Homo sapiens: one gene and its partners. The protein of the gene in region 1 interacts with the protein of each later gene in a pairwise test. Each region holds a gene or a part of one and is shown in the gene's direction. Other genes may lie near its edges. The genes, in order: TMOD1, FBXL17, TLR2, MLH3 and DCC.

Region 1 (4,449 bases):
ACATGGATCTGTTTCTAGGTGCCTCCTCTGTTTCATGAGCCCTTTTGTCCTTTCCTGTGCCAATATTGCATTGCCTTAATTACTCCACTGCATTGTTCCAAAGCTGGCATTTTGGCCCCAAACAGAAATGAGGCTGCCAAAAAAAATAATTATTCCTCCCTCTGGAAGATTGATGCATTTCTTTCCCATCCGGGCTTCATCTTAGCCTCCCAAGAGTCCACTGAGGTCATGAGCCCCGGGAAAATGACTAGCCCTGCCTTACAGATGTAGACCCAAGGTTCAGAGAGTTTAAGTAATTCACCCAGTTCTTGCAGGACGTCAAAGGCAGAGTCCAAGTAGAACCCCAGCCTCCTGGCTCCCTTGCGGGGCTTCTTCTGAGTGGTGCCCCCTACCCCCACCCAGCCCCTGTGATGTGCAGCCCTCACGTGCCCCAACCCTGCACATGCTCCCTTCCACAGTATCTTTGTGTTGGCAGAAAGTGAGCCCCTTGTTTCTGTGAGCCACCTCCCTTTCATCGGTCACTCTAGGCGTGATTAAACCCACACAATACAAGCCTGTGCCCGACGAAGAACCAAATTCAACAGACGTAGAGGAAACGCTGGAACGGATAAAGAACAACGACCCAAAACTTGAAGAAGTTAACCTCAATAATATCCGGGTAAGGTCCATTTATTTCACTTTACCTGTGTGTGGCTGGGGGAGGGGGAACCATGTCACCCAAATGCAAACGGTCCAGGGTTGGTTGTGCAGAGTAAACAGGGTCCTGTTTGGATTCTGGGTGTTTCTGCATTGGGAATAGGGACAAAACCTTTGCAAATGGGAGCCTTTAAGAGGGGTGGGCAGTGTAAACAAGTGCATCTGGCAGTCCTGGTTTCTTTCTGAGGATGATATCAGGCCCAGATGTTTAGCACGGGCCAACCCAGCTTTGATCTGGAAACCTGCCACGTTATTCAAAACACTGAGAGATTCTCCGAGATAAAATCATGAGTCAGACACACGCTGCTGCATGGGATCTCAAGGCTGGAAAAGTCCGGTGCCCACTAGGCTCGGGGGTAACACAGGCCCTGGGCAGGCCCCTCCCCTGTGCCATCGCTGCTGCTATATCACGTTCATATTCAGCCTTGTTTTACAGCCACAGAAGGGAGCTGTTGGCCAAAATGTCCAAAGCGATATCCCAAGCTGTCTGCCCTTTTCTCTGTGCACATTTCCTTATGTGATCCCGGGGCAGGGGAGGGACAGGTGGACAGGCAGTCTCACCCTGAACAGGCCGCCGCAGGAAGAATTCAGAGACAAATGCAGCTTTCTACCCACCTGCTGAGCCCAGAGACCAGTGGATTAGTTCTGGGAGGGGGGTGGGGGTAAGACTAGAAGCCAGCCCCCCATGCCCCTGCTCCACTTTCTTTCCTTCTCCACTTTATTTTAAGCAGCTGCCAGCCCCACGGCACCATCAGATTGGAAACCTGCACCCTAGTGTTCACCCCCACCTGGCCTCCCCATGCTCTGCTCCCATGGGAGCTAAAGTGACGCTCTGAGAGATTGGTAAAAACACAGCCATGTTTTCTTTCATGTGCCCAGTAGGAGACATTGGCACAATTCAGAATGCTGCCCACTGGCAGTGAATGCTGCCTCAGGGCCACATGAGGGATGGAATCTCCCTGTGAGGCCCCAGCCTCCTCTGGGCCTCAGTTTCTCCTCTGCACTGTGAGCCTGTTGGACCAGATCAGTGGTTTTCACCTGAGAAGATTAAAAAATATATACCAACGCCCAGGCCTGACCCTAGAGATTCTGATTCTATTGTTCTGGGCCGGCCCAAGCATCACCATTTTGTAAAAGTTCCCCAGGAGTCTCTGATGTGCCGCTGGAGCAGAGACCCCCTGGGGTAGATGTCTCTTAAAGAGTATCATATGCAACCCCCTTACCTGTTTTCCAGAAACAGGGCCAGAGAGGGCAGGAGGCTTCCACAGAGACACCTAGCAAGTCAGGAACATTGCCGATCATTGGGACCAAGGCCAGGTTCCAGCCCCTCTCACACCCCTAGTCCTAGCTCTTTGCACAATACTACACGCCTTAATTTTTGCCTCTTCTCTGGCCCCCAAGTGCACAAAGAAAGAGGTTACAGGTCTTATCTGAAATTTTCAGGGAGGATTTTCTAAATCTGTTTACCAGAAAGTTCTCCCCAGATTTCAGTCGTCCGGGACAAAGCCTAAACCTTTTGCCCATTCAGCTTTTTGGCCAGAGACTTGCCAGGAATCAGAGAGTAGCCAGGCTAATCCACCTGCCTCAGCCTGTCCCAGAGGAGGCTTCTGGTCACTCTCTCTGTTGCCTTTCTTTGTGCAGAATATCCCCATCCCCACCCTCAAGGCATATGCAGAAGCCCTGAAAGAAAACTCATATGTGAAGAAGTTCAGCATCGTGGGGACACGGAGTAATGACCCCGTGGCGTATGTATGTACCTTTCTGTTCTGTTGCATTGTGGCTGGGGGCCTTGAAACAGAAGGGTTGAAATATGTGGCCTCAGGACTGGTTGTATCCCACTAACAAAGAGCTCTATGTGGTACAGTGGAAGGCATTGGACCAGGAGCCATGAGGGGTGTAGAGGGAACAGCCATCACCTGGCACCACCTACACGTCATCCTGGCCAATCCTCACACCCACTTCTGGTCTCAGATGTGCAGTTCTCCCCACTTTGCACTTAAAAAATCTAGGGTTCGGAGAGGTCAGGCAACTTGTTTTGTCCAGTCACACAGCAAGTGAGAGGTGGACCTGCAAGTCCAGTGCAGTCACGTGACCCCTAAATCTTCACTCGGCACATCATATTAGAACAAGAGCCTGCCCTTCCCTGTTCCTCAGTTTTTCCATCTCTAAAATCAATGGTTTTGGTTGGGCGCAGTGGCTCACACCTGCAATTCCAGCACTTTGGGAGGTCAAGACGGGTGGATCACTTGAGGTCAGAAGTTCGAGACCAGCCTGGCCAACATGGTGAAACCCCGTCTCTACTAAAAGTATAAAAATTACCTGGGCTTGGTGGTGCATGCCTGTAATCCCAGCTACTCGGGAGGCTGAAGCAGGAGAAGCACTTGAGCCCAGGAGGCGGAGGTTGTAGTGAGCCGAGATTGCACCACTATACTCCAGCTTGGGCGACAGAGCGAGGCTCCATCACAAAATAAATAAATAAATAAATAAAAATTTAAAAAAATAAAAATGATGGTTTCATCAGCAGGTCCCAATGACCAATTTTATTTTATAAGTCTCAAAAGATATTTCTGATCAAATTAAATTGTACTTACTCTGAAGTAGCCATCAACTCTTCTTTTTAAACATCCAGCACATATGTATTGAGAGTCTCTCTGTGCCCAACGCTGAATTAGGTTCTGGGAATACAATTGTGACCAGTCTCAGCTTCCACTTTCATAAAGATTCTGGTCCATTTGGCCAAGCAGACAACTAAAGGGTAACAGTACAGTGCAATTACTGCAAAGCTAGATTCCTGCAAGAAGGGCAGAAGCTAGTTTATCAGGGCTAGTAATTAACCATTTAGTAGCAATCGATTTTTTTCTGATTCTTAAAATAGGTAAGACAGTGTTCTTTCATATTTTTGAAATAATAGAAATAGCTCACAGTCTCTCATTGCTGTCAGTGGGGAACCTCTGGATTGATGACCTCTGACCTCAGATCTCCATGGTTCCTTGCCCATAGGAACACAGCTGGCAAAGCCACATGCCCTGTATGCTACTATGTCATGGGTCAGAAACCAAGCACATCCATTCTGGCCCTCAGCTCAGGTCCACAAATGTTTTTTGGGCATGGACTCTGCCAGACCAACAGCTGATATCAGCCTATGCACACCAGTATGCCCGTGTCAAACACTGAGATGCTTCTGGGCCAGTTGGTAAATCAGGCTGCCAGAGCTCTGTCAGGGCCCCCACCGCCTGCCCTAGCTTTTCTCCTGGCCCCGGTTCCTCCACTGGGACCCAGCATACAAGGAGTTAACACCTGGCAAGACAGGGCCTCCAGGACCTGCTCAGCCACCAGCATGTCCAGTTGGATCAGCCTAGCAGGTTGCCTACTGGTTGTTATTTTGATTTTTTTTATTAGATTTGATTAAGCCAGGCCAGGCCTTTCCTGGGAGCAGGAAGGTTCTGGTGGAAGACACAGAGAGGACTCTGGCTGGGTCCTTTCCCTCAGGAGGGCCAGCCAAGTCAGAGACAGACGCCATCATAGAGAAAGCTGACATGCCATCCCGGGGGCACACTGAAGTGAAGGGCACTGAGGAGGGGGCGATGATTTCAAAACAGAGGGCTTCCTGGGAGCTAGCCTCTCAGCAGGTCTCAGCAAGGCAGGGGCGACGGGGTAGGTATTCCTGGCTCGGAGCATCATTTTAGGCAGCAGGGCCCACCGATCAGTATGTCCTATCAGCTGCTGGTGTCTTTTTCCCTCCATGACGCATCG
Region 2 (4,449 bases), on another chromosome or scaffold:
ACCAATGAAAGTCATGATGATACCAGAGAGAACAATTTTCTTAGGTCAGAGACACCAAAATTAACCTGGGATGTTGCTCCTTCTATACAAAAATAGTATTCAGACCATTTCTGCAAACTTTTAGTAGTTGGCAAATCCCCCAAACCCCTTGGAAAACTTTAAATATCAAAACAGCATGCACAAAGATGAAAACATTAACAAACTGGTACATAGAGAACTTTTTTTAAAAAAATTGTCTCTCTATTGTATTTTCACTGGAAAACACTGGGATCATGATTGTTGTTTTTATAAACATTAAATATCTGGCTACTTGGGAGTGCTTTCCTACTGGAATGTACGGACATGAGTTTTCTAGTAAAAAAAAAAAATACTGAGGTAATTAGCAAAGAAAGATTTTGCCAAATATTCTCTTCTGTGAGCTGTAGGAGTAAACATTTGTTAACATGAGTACTTAACTCTAAATTATCCATCTAGTCAACACATTTTGGGAACTATCATTCACCTTTATTGTCACAGAAATCAACTTATGCTATCTTAGAATGAGGAAATTATCAGAAAACCATTTCTCTTTTCTTTTTGATATTTGTGGCACTGTTTTCAGGGTTTTGATTCACAAACCAGTGCACCATAAACTGGTGCTGGGGTATTGAAATTTGTTTTCTGGGCTCCTTAAATATAAAGGTGGGCACATTTATCAAAGTCGGTAGAAAAGAGCCACATTCACCACTTGGTCGCTGTGATGGGGTGATGGGTTATGGGACTTTGCAGTGATTAGTAGTGCACATCATAGATTATGGGATAAGTGTCTGCACTTTAGTGGTGGTACAATGCTAAACAGCCGAGAAGACTACAGATACTCTCATAGTTTACAGACGACAGGCTTCATTTTGTATGTTAATAGAAGGAAGACTTCTGATAGGATGAGGAAATTCACCATAACAAATGCATTCTGTTTACTGCACTCTAGCATGGCACCAATTAAAATCAGCAGTATGTATGATGTACTCTTAATTCCTAACAGTCCCAAGAAGCGCTAATGTGAAAAATATTTTATACTTTTACATTTTACAGGTCATGAACAGATGGAAAAAATTATGCCAATTGGTAAAGACATTCACTTGCAGTATAACACTCCTCAAAATGGTGTTTACGTGGGTTCTTCTTTAAAAAAAAATTAAAGTTATCTTGGGTAAAATTAAGTTAGTACTTGGGTTTTTTTAAATGTTGTATCTGTAATACATTTTAATTTATTCCTTCTGCAGAGCTGAATGTTTGAAAGTACAGGTAACCTTGTAATGAATAAAACTGATAAAAGGTTGTGTTCAATGAAAGGGAAATTATGGAATGATTATTCACTTTGCAAATGGGTTTGTCATAGGGAAGCTTTCCTAAAGCATTTCAAATTTAGTTTAGTTTATAAAACGTTCATTTACACACAAAATTTCAGGAACAAATTTAGTGAGGAAATGAGATGAATAGTCATAATAAGATAGAGCTCCCTTACACTGCTAACATTAATGCTTTCTCTGCGTCCCTTCTTGCAGCACTGATAGCCATTGGGCGATACAGCATGACAATAGAGACTGTGGATGTCGGATGGTGTAAAGAAATCACAGACCAAGGAGCCACCCTGATTGCACAGAGCAGCAAGTCTCTGAGATATTTGGGGCTGATGAGATGTGATAAAGTAAGAGTTGACTATCAAGTTGTTTGCTTTCTACATATCAGTATAGTTAATAGCTTGATGTCATATCCTCTCTCCTTCTCTATCTCCACCCCCGTGTATTATATATTATATATACATTTTATATGTATATATGCAATTATAGCTATGCATTGTTTGCCTGCTTTTGTAAACTAATCTGAGATTATCTTTGTATTTCCCCACTTAATAATGAATTTTGTGCTTAAGTAGAAAGAAAAAGTAATCATATACATAGTCAACTAGAGTTTGGCATCCTATTCATAAGTCCATGGACCAAAATGTAAAAGATTACATGACAAACTGCAATTTGCAGGGTCTAACCGTAAAATTGTATTCTGGGTTTCAAGTTTCCAGCAACAGTAAAGGTGGAAAGAACAGTGCCAAATTGGTTTTTCACAAGTGTGTAATTTTGGTACTGAACATCTATGTATTCTGGCCATTCGGGACCAACAAAGGGCCAGTAAGGGGGTATGTGGGAATTTGCATCTCCCCATACATCAGATGCCACTCCCAGCACATGATAAGAAGTGGTTCCAGAGGTCCTGGTGGAAGGCCTGTAGAACCAGCCAGGGATGTGAGCATGAGTTTAGGAAATGGTGTAGCATTTAACGTGGGACCCTTTGAAGACTGAGAAAACAGATAATAAAAATCTATACTGACACCTGTAATCCCAGCACATTGGGAGGCCAAGGCAGAAGGATCACTTGAGCCCAGGAATTTGAGACCAGCCTGGACAACATGGGAAAACCCTGTCTCTATCCCCCTCTCCCCCAACAAAAAAAAATTAGCCAGGCATAATGGCACACACCTGTAGTCCCAGCTACTCGGGAAGCTAAGGTGGGAGGATCACCTGAGCTCAAGAGGCCGAGGTTGCAGTGAGCCGTGATTGTGCCGCAACCACCTCAGCCTGGATGACGGAGCACGACTGTGTCCCAAACAAACAAAAAAAACCTATACTGGACACCAGGCACTCCACAGGTGTTTTCTTCTTTGTTTATTCCATGTTTTACCTATAACAAGTCTAAGAAATAGTTATTTGCATTGTGAAGGGGAGAAAATGGAGGCTCAGAAAGACCAGTCAGTGGCCCCAGGATACTCTGGCAAGACTTCATGCCGGGTCTTTGGAGTCTGTATCCAGTGCTGCTGGCACAACCCAGGGGGCAGTCTGTGGCCACGGGGACTGCTTCCCTTGGAAAAGGTCCAGTTCAGATACTTGCTCAGAAAGTGCCGCCATCTTGTACTAATTTACACATGTGTGCTACTTTTGTAAATGGTGATTAGGAACAAATCTAGCAAAATAATGTGAAACTAAATAGACACGCCATTCAAAGGGCATGCATCTTCTAAATGTAGCAAATGTGGGGGCAAATGAAGTATGGCCCAAAGCTCTTGTGTCCTTTGTGATTTTTTGTTAATTGGCTAATTCTTTTCTCCAAACACTTTAGAATCCCAACTTATACGAGACCTTTGCCAGCTAGTTATGTTTAGAGAAATGTTATTATATATTCTCAGCCCAGCCCAGAAGCGACTTACTTTGTAACTAAGCAACAGCACTGAGATCCGGGGCTTGCGAGTCTCCCACAAATCTTTCCACTAACCAACCTAATGCCGCTGCTAACCCTGCCACTTTAAAATGACTTCTTTTAAGACAAGTTAAAGGGTCCACCATAGGCATAGTCCTCTAGAAACAGGAATCAATGACAGCAGAACTCCTCAGCTTCCAGCAGAAGGAACTGCCACATGAATGCTAACTAAAGCTACCAAAATGTACACATTCATACATATGTGTCCGCAGCCATTCTCAGAAATTGTCATATTTCTAACCTGTAATCTTTAGATGGTTAAGATCAGCTCCATCTTCGGAGATACACTGTAGAAGTTGTATGTTACAGTTACTACAGGAGAATGTTATTCCAGACATATTTGCTGACCAGCATTTTGCTGATTTTTAGTTAAGAAATGGGTTATTTTCTACCCAAATGCAAATTAGTCCAAAATTAAATAGAGACAGTATTCAGATTAGCTGTATCCCTGAGGGTTTTAGCCCTTTTCCTGGGCTGCCTCTGAATCCTTTCTCTAACCAGAGAGCCACTCTGAGAACCCATTGGCTCCAGCACGACGCCGTCTGGTCAGAGCCTGCTGCAGTGCAGCCCAGGGAGATGCTGGACCCAGCCTTGCTGTCTGGCTTCCTCAGACTTAAAGCAGCTCAGAGCCAAACACGAGAGGCTCTGTGAGGATGGAAGACAGTTCCAAACCACACACAAAGCACAAGTAAAGCCTTGCACAGAAAAGCCTGCTTGTTGGTTTAGTTGGATGGAAATCTAAAGTAGCTATTCAGTTTTCAGATTTTGTATCATGCCATCCATCTCCAGATTTTAAGTTACCATCAAGATTCAAAGGAAGATATGAGTAACAAAGAAAAGAAATTAGTAGCAACGGTATGGTCTGCGGAGAGCCAGAGTTCAGGTTCAGATCTGGGCTTTGCACTTACTAGTTGTGTCACCGCGGGCAGTTACTAACCTCTCAGTGCCTGTTCCCTCGTTTGCAAAATGAGGATGATACTAGTACCTATCTTGTAGAATTGTGAGCATGTGAATGAGTTAACATACATAAAGCACTTAGAATAATGTCTATTATATATAAAATGCTCTGTTACTGATTAGTCTTATCATCCATATCATTATATTAACCTGTGTTGTGATACTGGAATTTTCCAATGAGAAAAAAAAATTATATTGCCTACT
Region 3 (3,690 bases), on another chromosome or scaffold:
ATTTTGCTGGACTTACCTTCCTTGAGGAACTTGAGATTGATGCTTCAGATCTACAGAGCTATGAGCCAAAAAGTTTGAAGTCAATTCAGAATGTAAGTCATCTGATCCTTCATATGAAGCAGCATATTTTACTGCTGGAGATTTTTGTAGATGTTACAAGTTCCGTGGAATGTTTGGAACTGCGAGATACTGATTTGGACACTTTCCATTTTTCAGAACTATCCACTGGTGAAACAAATTCATTGATTAAAAAGTTTACATTTAGAAATGTGAAAATCACCGATGAAAGTTTGTTTCAGGTTATGAAACTTTTGAATCAGATTTCTGGATTGTTAGAATTAGAGTTTGATGACTGTACCCTTAATGGAGTTGGTAATTTTAGAGCATCTGATAATGACAGAGTTATAGATCCAGGTAAAGTGGAAACGTTAACAATCCGGAGGCTGCATATTCCAAGGTTTTACTTATTTTATGATCTGAGCACTTTATATTCACTTACAGAAAGAGTTAAAAGAATCACAGTAGAAAACAGTAAAGTTTTTCTGGTTCCTTGTTTACTTTCACAACATTTAAAATCATTAGAATACTTGGATCTCAGTGAAAATTTGATGGTTGAAGAATACTTGAAAAATTCAGCCTGTGAGGATGCCTGGCCCTCTCTACAAACTTTAATTTTAAGGCAAAATCATTTGGCATCATTGGAAAAAACCGGAGAGACTTTGCTCACTCTGAAAAACTTGACTAACATTGATATCAGTAAGAATAGTTTTCATTCTATGCCTGAAACTTGTCAGTGGCCAGAAAAGATGAAATATTTGAACTTATCCAGCACACGAATACACAGTGTAACAGGCTGCATTCCCAAGACACTGGAAATTTTAGATGTTAGCAACAACAATCTCAATTTATTTTCTTTGAATTTGCCGCAACTCAAAGAACTTTATATTTCCAGAAATAAGTTGATGACTCTACCAGATGCCTCCCTCTTACCCATGTTACTAGTATTGAAAATCAGTAGGAATGCAATAACTACGTTTTCTAAGGAGCAACTTGACTCATTTCACACACTGAAGACTTTGGAAGCTGGTGGCAATAACTTCATTTGCTCCTGTGAATTCCTCTCCTTCACTCAGGAGCAGCAAGCACTGGCCAAAGTCTTGATTGATTGGCCAGCAAATTACCTGTGTGACTCTCCATCCCATGTGCGTGGCCAGCAGGTTCAGGATGTCCGCCTCTCGGTGTCGGAATGTCACAGGACAGCACTGGTGTCTGGCATGTGCTGTGCTCTGTTCCTGCTGATCCTGCTCACGGGGGTCCTGTGCCACCGTTTCCATGGCCTGTGGTATATGAAAATGATGTGGGCCTGGCTCCAGGCCAAAAGGAAGCCCAGGAAAGCTCCCAGCAGGAACATCTGCTATGATGCATTTGTTTCTTACAGTGAGCGGGATGCCTACTGGGTGGAGAACCTTATGGTCCAGGAGCTGGAGAACTTCAATCCCCCCTTCAAGTTGTGTCTTCATAAGCGGGACTTCATTCCTGGCAAGTGGATCATTGACAATATCATTGACTCCATTGAAAAGAGCCACAAAACTGTCTTTGTGCTTTCTGAAAACTTTGTGAAGAGTGAGTGGTGCAAGTATGAACTGGACTTCTCCCATTTCCGTCTTTTTGATGAGAACAATGATGCTGCCATTCTCATTCTTCTGGAGCCCATTGAGAAAAAAGCCATTCCCCAGCGCTTCTGCAAGCTGCGGAAGATAATGAACACCAAGACCTACCTGGAGTGGCCCATGGACGAGGCTCAGCGGGAAGGATTTTGGGTAAATCTGAGAGCTGCGATAAAGTCCTAGGTTCCCATATTTAAGACCAGTCTTTGTCTAGTTGGGATCTTTATGTCACTAGTTATAGTTAAGTTCATTCAGACATAATTATATAAAAACTACGTGGATGTACCGTCATTTGAGGACTTGCTTACTAAAACTACAAAACTTCAAATTTTGTCTGGGGTGCTGTTTTATAAACATATGCCAGATTTAAAAATTGGTTTTTGGTTTTTCTTTTTTCTATGAGATAACCATGATCATAAGTCTATTACTGATATCTGAATATAGTCCCTTGGTATCCAAGGGAATTGGTTGCAGGATCCTCGTGGATATCAAAATTCATAGATGATCAAGTCCCTTATAAGAGTGGCATAGTATTTGCATATAACCTGTGTACATTCTCCTGTATACTTTAAATCATCTCTAGATTACTTATGATACCCAATACAATGTAAATACTATGTAAATAGTTGTACTGTCTTTTTATTTATATTATTATTGTTATTTTTTATTTTCAAAATTTTTAAAACATACTTTTGATCCACAGTTGGTTGACTTCATGGATGCAGAACCCATGGATATAGAGGGCCAACTGTAATCTGTAGCAACTGGCTTAGTTCATTAGGAAACAGCACAAATGAACTTAAGATTCTCAATGACTGTGTCATTCTTTCTTCCTGCTAAGAGACTCCTCTGTGGCCACAAAAGGCATTCTCTGTCCTACCTAGCTGTCACTTCTCTGTGCAGCTGATCTCAAGAGCAACAAGGCAAAGTATTTGGGGCACTCCCCAAAACTTGTTGCTATTCCTAGAAAAAAGTGCTGTGTATTTCCTATTAAACTTTACAGGATGAGAAATACTAGAGGGTGTATTTTCATGTGATCTGGATCTGTCTTTCTGGCTATTAGATAGGTTTCTCCAGCCATAGTTACTTGAGAGAGTGAGTACACAGTGCAAGGTACAGTAAATTATGTATTTCTGTAATTTAACAAAATAAATACTCAGTTTAGGAGAATTTGAAAGACACTTCCCACATCCGGACTCTGGTCTTCCTCAGCCTCTAACTACCTTTTGAGTTCTAGTTATTGTCCAATCACTCTGACTCTCAGTTCCTGTTTTTTAGCCTATATCTCCTGCATCTTGTTGCTTTTTCCTTCTTCGAAAAGTCTTGTTTTTAATTCTAAAAAAGCCTGCCCTTTTTCCCCTTCTGAATATTTTAAAAAGTACATGTGAGCTAAATAGATTTTTAAGCAAATATATACCTAGAGTTTCCTCATAATGACTCAAAAATAGTTTGATACACAGTAATTTAAAGGTAGATACTACTACCATATGTTAATTTTGCAATCTAGGTATAATAATACCACACATTAAATTTTGATGCAACTTTCTTTGGTAAGCACTATTTGCTGATTCTATGTAACTTTCTTAAGCTGGGAACCATGTGAAAGGAAGTGAGCCTTTGACCCCTGCTCAATTCTCAACCAGAACTGGGTGTATGTGGTTAATTGGGCACTAGAGTCAGAAAGACCTGGGTTAGTAGATGTGTAATCTTTGGCAAGTCAGTTGACATGACCCAAAAAGTTTTTCTGTCTTTAAAATAGGGATGATGATCTCTATATCCTAAGATACTGAGAGTATGAAATGTAGGAATGTAAGTAAACCATGAGCCTAAGCTCCTTGATTCCCATTTTCTCTGGAGGGGTGTTGAGGGCAAGAGTACCACGCCTAAGAGAATGGGCACTATGGGTTCGTGTGTGGGGTGAGGGTGATGTCTGTAGTAGATGTTAGCTATTATTATTATTTTCCAAGAAGATATTTCATTCCCTTATATATTATGGCTTGTAAGTGGATATTTTTCTGTTATG
Region 4 (4,449 bases), on another chromosome or scaffold:
TCTGGATGCCAACTTTACCTGTTCCCTTTTGCCCTAGATACTGTGGATGATACTGTTAGTAGCGAATCGCTTCAGTCTTTGTTCTCAGAATGGGACAATCCAGTATTTGCCCGTTATCCAGAGGTGGGTCTGTAGCAGTTTTTCTTTGCCTTTTTTTTTTCTTCTTCTTCTTCTTATTTTTTAAATTTTGAGATGGAGTTTTGCTCCTGTTGCCCAGACTGAAATGCAATGGCATGATCTCGGCTCACGTAACCTTCGCTTCCCAGGTTCAAGCAATTCTCCTGCCTCAGTCTCTCGAGCAGCTGGGATTACAGGCACCTGCCACCACGCCCAGCGAATTTTGTATTTTTAGTAGAGATGGGGTTTCTCCATATTGGTCAGGCTGGTCTCTAACTCCCAACCTCAGGTGATCTGCCCGCCTCAGCCTCCCAAAGTCCTGGGATTACAGGTGTGAGCCATCACGCCCAGCCTTTCTTTGCCTGTTATTTTAAACTTTGAGTTTCAAGATGGGTACAGTGGCATGCACTTATAGTCTCAGCTACTCAGGAGGCTGAGGTGGGAGGATCACTTGAGGCCAGAAGTTCAAGGCTATATAGTGTGCTGATTGCACCTGTGACTAGCCACTGCACACTATAGCCTGGGCAACACAGTGAGACTCCATCTCTTAAAAAATAAGTAAATTAGTTAAAAATAAAATTTGAATTTTATTTAAGCTGGGTATGGGCATGCAAGACTATATTAATTTGTAATTATGATTGGAAACTGGGCATATTTCCAAATTATGTATTTGGAAATTACTGTTTAATGTAGAGGGGAGAAATAAAATTTATAGCATTTGGGAACTCAGGCATTTTGGATTAAACATGTATAATCAATGTGAGAACAGTGAATGTGTTTACCACTCTCAGAAACCCTGACTTGTAGCTTTGGCACAGTATTCAGGGTGGTGATAATGAAATTGTTATCATTAGATAAAGCCACACATCTTCTACTGGAGGAACAGTTCCTCATTGGCCCCGCATGGATGTTCTCTCCTCAGTGTATTTTCACAGAATGTACTGTGCATGTTATAAACAGGGTGTATAATAGATGAGCATTTGTTTACCAGTTCTTTCCTCAAGATATCATTTGAGGACTTGATCATGGAACATAGACAAATTGTTGTTGTGAAACAATTTTTTTTGTTTTGTCAGTAATTTTGTTTATAAGCAAAAATTTTTATGTAAGACTCATTATTCATAAATTCTTTTGAATTTTTTTTTTTTTTTTTTTTTTTTTTTTTTTTTTTGTGACAGAGTCTTGCTGTGTCGCCCAGGCTGAAGTGCAGTGGCGTGATCTCAGCTCACTGCAAGCTCCGCCTCCCGGGTTCACACCATTCTCCTGCCTCAGTCTCCCAAGTAGCTGGGACTAAAGGCGCCTGCCGCCACGCCCAGCTAATTTTTTGTATTTTTTAGTAGAGATGGGGTTTCACCATGTTAGCCAGGATGGTCTCGATCTCCTGACCTCGTGATCTGCCCGCCTCAGCCTCCCAAAGTGCTGAGATTACAGGTGTGAGCCACCACGCCCGGCCGATTCTTTTGAATTTCTATAAATTCCCTGAATTAAACCCACCTCTAGTAGGCTAAATAAAAATGAATGCTTTTAAAGCACTCTGATATCTTTGGTAAAACAATTCTGACACAAAAATTAAAATTTCAATTATATTTTGCTGAGTCTTTCTAGGTTGCTGTTGATGTAAGCAGTGGCCAGGCTGAGAGCTTAGCAGTTAAAATTCACAACATCTTGTATCCCTATCGTTTCACCAAAGGAATGATTCATTCAATGCAGGTAAAAGATTAACTTCAAAATCTCATAAATATATATATATATATATATATATATATATATATATGGCCTAACTCTTCTAAAATTTGATTTATTTAATGATATAGACCACCTTGGTCAAGGCACGTGTGTGTGTGTGTGTGTGTGTGTGTGTTCTTACTAGAACTTTTATCATCAGAAGAAAAAGCAAGGGATTAATTATAATTACAAAGAAAGAAATATCTTTAGTAGTGTAAGTAGGTTTGGAGGGAATGAATTATGGATTCAGGCTGACAGTTTCAAGGATTCTCAAGGTTCTCCTGCAGAAGATTATATATTGACTTTATATTTGGCAATAATTTATAAATCAAAGTCCTTTAGTGACCTTGTCCTTAAGTGTGCAACAGTGCCCTTTTAGAAATTACCTTCTATTGTGTGAGCCTACACAGGTTTGGGAAAGCCCATATTGAGAAGTCATTTCACAAAAGGGACCCTTTGTCTGATCTGCTTTTCTATTTTGCCTTGTGTTTACCACCATGGCTGTCTTATTCCCTTTGTTTTCAGTACGGAAACAAATTAGGAGGCTAACAAATTTGGGTAAACTCCTAACCTGGCATTGACCTGGTACCAGAGCAGGCAAGCAGTTGATCCAGAAATAGACCCTGGGGCAGTGGTATAGGCTCGGGGGTATTGGAGAGCCTCAAGTACCTAGACAGAGAGGAACCACCAAGGTCTAAAGCCACCAGTGGCTTTTAACTTACTTCTTTAATAGACTAGCAGCCGGGCGCGCTGGCTCACGCCTGTAATCCCAGCACTTTGGGAGGCCGAGGTGGGTGGATCATGAGGTCAGGAGTTCGAGACCATCCTGGCTAACACGGTGAAACCCCGTCTCTACTAAAAATACAAAAAATTAGCTGGGCGTGGTGGCGGGCACCTGTACTCCCAGCTACTCGGGAGGCTGAGGCAGGAGAATGGCATGGAGGCAGGAGAATGGCATGAACCCAGGAGGCAGAGCTTGCAGTGAGCCGAGATCACACCATTGCACTCCAGCCTGGGTGACAAAGTGAGACTCCGTCTCAAAAAAAAAAAAATTAAAAATAAATAAAAATAAAAATAGACTAGTTTCTCCATAATCGTTTTCCTTGCTTTCATATAAATTTTAAAAATTTATTTCAGCCTGTATGTTAGCAATCTCTGGTCACATTACCTATTCTCAAGAGTCACTCTGTTGGGAACATCTCAGGCCTTCTCTAAAGTATTGCTAGCACACCACTCTGAGACGTGGGAGTCTGTCTTCCCCTGTCGCCTCCCTCCCCTTACATCTTCTGATCAACTCCACCTGCCCATTCTTTCATCCTTCCTAGTGACTTTTTCTGGTTCATCAGAACCTTACCCAGTCTCAAAGAAAGGAGTGTGATAAGGCAAACAACTCTAAATAAAATACAGTTCTGTATCTTTCTATGCAAATAAGCCTTTGTTAATTTTTATTTAGTGTTGTACCACTTATTTGAATGTCTGACAGGTTCTCCAGCAAGTAGATAACAAGTTTATTGCCTGTTTGATGAGCACTAAGACTGAAGAGAATGGCGAGGCAGGTAAGAATGGAGTTTAGCCTGAATGATTAACCAGCTGGTCTTCTTGTAACCTTTTTTTAATGATTATTTTTGGTATATAATATAGTTTCAATGATTTGGATGGATTAGGGAAAGCCAATCTAAAACTAAGAATATTATGAAGGCTGGGTGCGGTGGCTCACACCTGTAATCCCAACACTTTGGGAGGTGAGGCAGGTGGATGGCTTGAGGCCAGGAGTTCAGGACCAGCCTGAGCAACATGGCAAAACCCCGTCTCTACTAAAAATACAAAAATTAGCTGGGCATGGTGGTGTGCACCTGTAGTCCCAGCTACTCAGGAGGCTAAGGCACAAGAATCGCTTGAACTTGGGAGGCAGAGGATGTAGTGAGCCGAGATTGCGCTATTACACTCCAGCCTGGGCGACAGACATTTAGTTTTATGTTCATACACATACATATACTCAGGATGCACATTAAACTATCAAGAGTATTTACTTTGGGAGTGAAAATGAGGGTGTGCAAAGGAGATATTTCAACTTTTACTCTTTTTGTCTTTTTTTTTTCCTTTTTGTGGAGAACGGGGTCTCGCTATATTGCCCAGGTAGGTCTCGAACTCCTGGGCTTAAGCTATCCTTCCACCTCTGCCTCCCTAACAGCTGGGATTACAGGTGTAAGCCACCACGCCCAGCCCATCTTTTATTCTTTTAAATATTTTCTATTGTTTGACTTTTTAATAATATTTTCATGTTTTCCCTTTATAATAATAGAAAGTGTATATAATGAACTCTGCTAGGTTTGTCAATATTTACACAGAATCTCTTGGTGACCTGCTCTAATGAAACAATAATAGTTTGTAAATATATTAACTCATTCAACAAGTATTAATTGAGTGCCCATTGTATGCCAGGGACTGTACCAGGCCCTAGGGATACAATAATGAGAAAAGATATATATGCAAGAGAAAAAAATAATTACACAAACATAAAATTTTAGTTCTAGCCCCTGTAATGGAGAAAGAGATACAAGATGCTCTAAGAACCTGTATTGGGAGATTTGATTTCATCAGGGAGTT
Region 5 (4,449 bases), on another chromosome or scaffold:
TCCAGACACCACAAGCCAGATGAGGGACTTTACCAATGTGAGGCATCTTTAGGAGATTCTGGCTCAATTATTAGTCGGACAGCAAAAGTTGCAGTAGCAGGTAGGTGGATTCTTCCTTCTCTTCCTCCTCCTCCTTCCTCTCTTCTTCTTATTCATTTTTGGGGATGAGAAAATAATTTTTGTAGAAATAATGTACATTTTAAAAATCTTTTAAATTTTAAGTTGACAAGTAATTATATATTTTTATGAAGTACAATGTCATGTTTTGATGTATGTATACATCGTGGAGTGATTATATCAAGCTAATTAACATATCTGTCACCACATACTTCTCTCTTTTCTGTGGTGAGAACATTTAAAATCTACTCTTTTAGCAATTTTGATATATACGTTGCTGTGCAATAGATATTAAAAGCTTATTTCTTCTCTCTCACTGAAACCTTGTGCCCTTTGACAAACATCTTTCCATTCCTTACCACGCCCCATCTTCCCAAGCCTCTGGTAACCATTCTGCTCTCTAGTTCTATGAGTCTGACTTTTTTATAATAGATTCTACCTGTAAGTGAGATCATGCAGTATTTTTCTTTCAGTGCCTGGCATGTTTCCCTTAGCATAATATCCTGTAGGTTCATCTATGTTATCACAAATAACAGGATTTACTCTTTTTAAAGGCTGAATAGTATTCCATTGTGTGTGTGTATGTATATCATATATACACACACACACATATATATATATATCTCATATTTTCTTTACCCATTCGTGATTGATTCCACATCTTGGCTGTTGTGAATAATGCTGCAATTAACATGGAGTATAGATATCTCTTATATACCCTCATTTCAATTCCTTTGGATATATACCCATAAGTAGGATTGTTGTATCATATGGTAATTCTAATTTTAGTTTTTTGAGAAAGCTACATAACCATTTTTCATAATGGCTATCTAATTTACATTTTCACCAACAACGCACATTTTTAAGAAAAAGGAAAGATGTAAAAAGATTCATGTTTATTCTGTCATGGATTTGACTGACCTTTCTCCTTAAATTATCTTAGAAAACAGTCATAGGACCTCAACTGGCTGCGTAAAGTTATGAGATTATTTTTTTAAACAAAACTGTTTCAAGTTGACTTACTACTTATATCTAAGGGAGGACTTCTCATTAACAGAAAAATATTAGAAAATATAATTTGCTAATTTTACTTTACAGCTTCATTAAATGCTAAACTTTTGCAGAGTCCATTTTTTTGTTGTGGGGCCTTAAGAAGAGTAAATTTTATTTTAATTATAGTGGCATGGCCTACAACATATACATGTCAAGTAAGAAATAAAAATTCCTTCTAGTGCTTCCAAATTTCTTAACGCTTGGTAACATGTTGGCTCAACAGCTGAGTAATAAGATGAACAGTTTTTGTTTTCACCTGGATACACTGAAGTCATGTAGACTCTGAAAAAATGGTACTGACCATTCTGGAACCCATGATATTGCTATTTCTGCCCCACTCTTCTGGTTAGAAGGCAGCTCATAATTATTTCTGTTGGCCCCTGAAATGTTAGACCTGCAAAGTGAAGAATCAGTTTTTTTACTTGTTTCTATAAAGATTTGACCAAAACCTGTCTTTTTTTTTAACTTTTATATTGACCATAAAGCAAGGCAAGCAGATTGAACTTGAAATAAATTTAAGTTATGAATGGGTAAGCAGATTTGAAGGGCTGCTTTCAACGTAATCTTTAGTTCTCAATAAAAACAATATTGAATCATAGGCTGTTTAGTCATTTGTTATGGGTTTTCTTTCCCAGGTCCTACTTAGTCTAGTCTCATCTTGGAAGACTGATCAGAATAACTCATTTTCATCAATAACAGGACAATTGGGCAGAATCACCACTCCTTCATGCACTCTCCTAGTGAGGGTCTGAGAAAGTTGAAATCTGAAAGATGTGATTTTGTCAGGTGGTGCTATAAAGAATTACATCTCATAGATATGTGGTTAATTCCCATATGTAGCTTCAAACCACTCTTCTGTAGCTTTTCTCCACTAAGAACTCTGTAGACTGAATGTTTTTTCTCCCTAAAATGTGTATATTGAAATTCTAACCCCCAATGTGATAGCACTGGGAGGTGGAGCCTTTGAGAGATAATTAGATCATGGGGTGGAGCCCTCATGAATGTGATTAGTGCCGTTATAAAAGTAACCACAGAACACCCCTGCTCCTTTCACCATGTGAGGATACAATGAGACGTCTGTAATCTGCAACCCAGAAGAGGACCCTCATCAGAAACCAATCATGCTGGCACCCTGATCTCAGATTTCCAGCCTCCAGAACTTTGAGAAATCAATGTCTGTTGTTTACAGCCTACCCAGTCCAGATACTTTGTGATAGCCACCCAAACTGATGAAGGCAGAGTTTTCCATAGTCAGTTAAGCCAGATTTTACCTAGAGGTAGACTGGCTAGCCATTCTGCTTTTCTTTGGACTGACTTGGCTTTTGCACTTGAAAGTCCCATATCCTGGGAAGCCACCTCAGTGCCAGGTAAAACCAGGACAGTGGGTCACTCTACCTCAAAGTGTCCCTGGTCTGCTTTAGCAATGACAGACTGAGGTGCAGATGCAGAAAACCCCCTCTACTCAGGAGACAGGCCAGGTGACATCCTGATGGTGAAAATCAAGGCTATAAAGTAACTGGAACCTTGGAGTGATGAGTGTCTGAAATTTGATTGATGAGTATAAAGTGTAGAGAGAACTGAATGTTAATGTTAATTATGATTGATTAGGAGAAACAAGTGGAATAAATCCTTCAGATTTGGTAAAAGCAGCTTTCTCAGAATGCTCCAAATGAAGTGGAAAGGGGACAATTTGACTTTCAGTCACTAGAGAATTTCTGGCCTCATAGATCCCACCCATCAGTTGTCCACAAGGCCAGAGGAGGTCTGCTGATTTGAATGAAGCAGGCTGATATTTTGATGCCTTATTATGAAAGGCAGCTGCCTATGCACTGTTAATGAAAATGGCCTGTTACATTGCAGTTTCAGTCTTCATGCAATCTACATTCACATTTACATGTGCTGTCTTTCAGTAGTGAAATGAAGAAGAGTTCCTTCGCTGTGAGATATTAAAATACAGTGGCTTGGACTTTAGTATTCTGTACAAGGATAGGCACACGGATTCAGTCACTGAGTTAAAATCTCATATTAGATTGTATCATTTCAAGGCAATAAGGCTGTTCACAGCATTTTAAACACTTACCATGCTGTTTGGCAACACAGAATACATCAATGTTATGTCTGCTGAGGTTAAGATTGCCAAACCACTAGAATTCACAAGGGGCATATATCTTCCCAGTAATAAAGACCATGGACCTGATTTAATCTCAGTTTTAAAGCATTAGCACTCAATAAACCAGTCACCACTAAATGGTAACAGTAGGCTTTGCTTGGGTAAAACAACAACAACAAAAAAATGTTTTGTACTCTCAGGTGCTGTATAGAGCCCATATTAAATAATGTCCCTCTTCCATTTTTGCTTTCTCAAAGTGTCTTTTGATAAAAAGAAGTGTAGCAAATGAAATCTGTCTTTAATCAGTCAGCACATTTTACACAATGATCTTGCCATGCACCATTCATCCTATTTTCTAGGAGCTTCTCAAGTGCTCTTAAAGGCTTGAGTGCACACTTGGCTGGAGAGGGAAGGAAAGTAGGAAAGATAAACGAAGAACTATCATTCCATCCAACATTTTCTTAAAAGTTGCAAAGTAACAGGCTACTGACTCTCAGTATTTCTAGTCATTTTGAGTTCTATCAGTAAAGAATACCTGGGCTATTAAGCCTCCATTTGAAAGCAACTTCATCATACTGGCTGAAATTTGGGAATTTTATTTTTATCCAATTAGCTCTAATCTAAAATGCTGCAGTGTTTCTGTGCCATGTATACTTCTATTTAGTCCTCTAGATTGAGAACAGCTGAAGAAGGGAAGCAGCGCTGAACTTATCTATGAAGCTTTCCTACCATCCCCTCTACTGTGTATCTAGCAAAGTATGTCATGTTAATAGTAGACATTTGCCTTACCAATGAAGACCTGGGGCTTTATGCCATATAAAGAGAGCTTTCCGCTGTTGCCATCCTCCTCTCTACCTCTCCTTCTTTGTCTCCCTTCTACTCCTCCTCCTTCTTCACTGGATTTCAGCAGATCAAACTCACCCATATATGTGCATACATAAACATACTCTTAACAAACTGAGTTGGAATAATTTGCTTTATATCTCAATAGCCTACAAATTAATTAACTATTGAAAACTTTGTGATTAGAAAATTGACTGTTTGGGAATATTCAAGTGCCACTTAAAAAGGAAAAAGCATGAGCATTTCTTCATTCCTTCCCTAACCCTTACCGTGAAAATGAACTTGCATCTGGCCAAGCACATCTTCCCTACTCTAAACGTTGCCAG

Evidence for each region.
Region 2: the proteins of TMOD1 (region 1) and FBXL17 interact in a two-hybrid assay, tested with the Homo sapiens proteins (one large-scale study listed by BioGRID).
Region 3: the proteins of TMOD1 (region 1) and TLR2 interact in a two-hybrid assay, tested with the Homo sapiens proteins (one large-scale study listed by BioGRID and IntAct).
Region 4: the proteins of TMOD1 (region 1) and MLH3 interact in a two-hybrid assay, tested with the Homo sapiens proteins (one large-scale study listed by BioGRID and IntAct).
Region 5: the proteins of TMOD1 (region 1) and DCC interact in a two-hybrid assay, tested with the Homo sapiens proteins (one large-scale study listed by BioGRID and IntAct).

What each region holds. Positions count from the first base shown.
Region 1 is NC_000009.12:97,563,511-97,567,959, forward strand, and holds part of TMOD1 (tropomodulin-1), read left to right. Parts: intron 1-527; coding exon 528-658; intron 659-2,337; coding exon 2,338-2,445; intron 2,446-4,449. UniProt on the Homo sapiens protein: Blocks the elongation and depolymerization of the actin filaments at the pointed end. The Tmod/TM complex contributes to the formation of the short actin protofilament, which in turn defines the geometry of the membrane skeleton.
Region 2 is NC_000005.10:107,878,275-107,882,723, reverse strand, and holds part of FBXL17 (F-box/LRR-repeat protein 17), read left to right. Parts: intron 1-1,544; coding exon 1,545-1,687; coding exon of another isoform or gene 1,688-1,861; exon of another isoform or gene 1,862-4,449. UniProt on the Homo sapiens protein: Substrate-recognition component of the SCF(FBXL17) E3 ubiquitin ligase complex, a key component of a quality control pathway required to ensure functional dimerization of BTB domain-containing proteins (dimerization quality control, DQC).
Region 3 is NC_000004.12:153,703,413-153,707,102, forward strand, and holds the end of TLR2 (toll-like receptor 2 precursor), read left to right. Parts: coding exon 1-1,850; 3' UTR 1,851-2,848; downstream 2,849-3,690. UniProt on the Homo sapiens protein: Cooperates with LY96 to mediate the innate immune response to bacterial lipoproteins and other microbial cell wall components. Cooperates with TLR1 or TLR6 to mediate the innate immune response to bacterial lipoproteins or lipopeptides.
Region 4 is NC_000014.9:75,037,289-75,041,737, reverse strand, and holds part of MLH3 (DNA mismatch repair protein Mlh3), read left to right. Parts: intron 1-37; coding exon 38-123; intron 124-1,713; coding exon of another isoform or gene 1,714-1,722; coding exon 1,723-1,827; intron 1,828-3,325; coding exon 3,326-3,398; intron 3,399-4,449. UniProt on the Homo sapiens protein: Probably involved in the repair of mismatches in DNA.
Region 5 is NC_000018.10:52,752,275-52,756,723, forward strand, and holds part of DCC (netrin receptor DCC), read left to right. Parts: coding exon 1-100; intron 101-4,449. UniProt on the Homo sapiens protein: Receptor for netrin required for axon guidance. Mediates axon attraction of neuronal growth cones in the developing nervous system upon ligand binding. Its association with UNC5 proteins may trigger signaling for axon repulsion.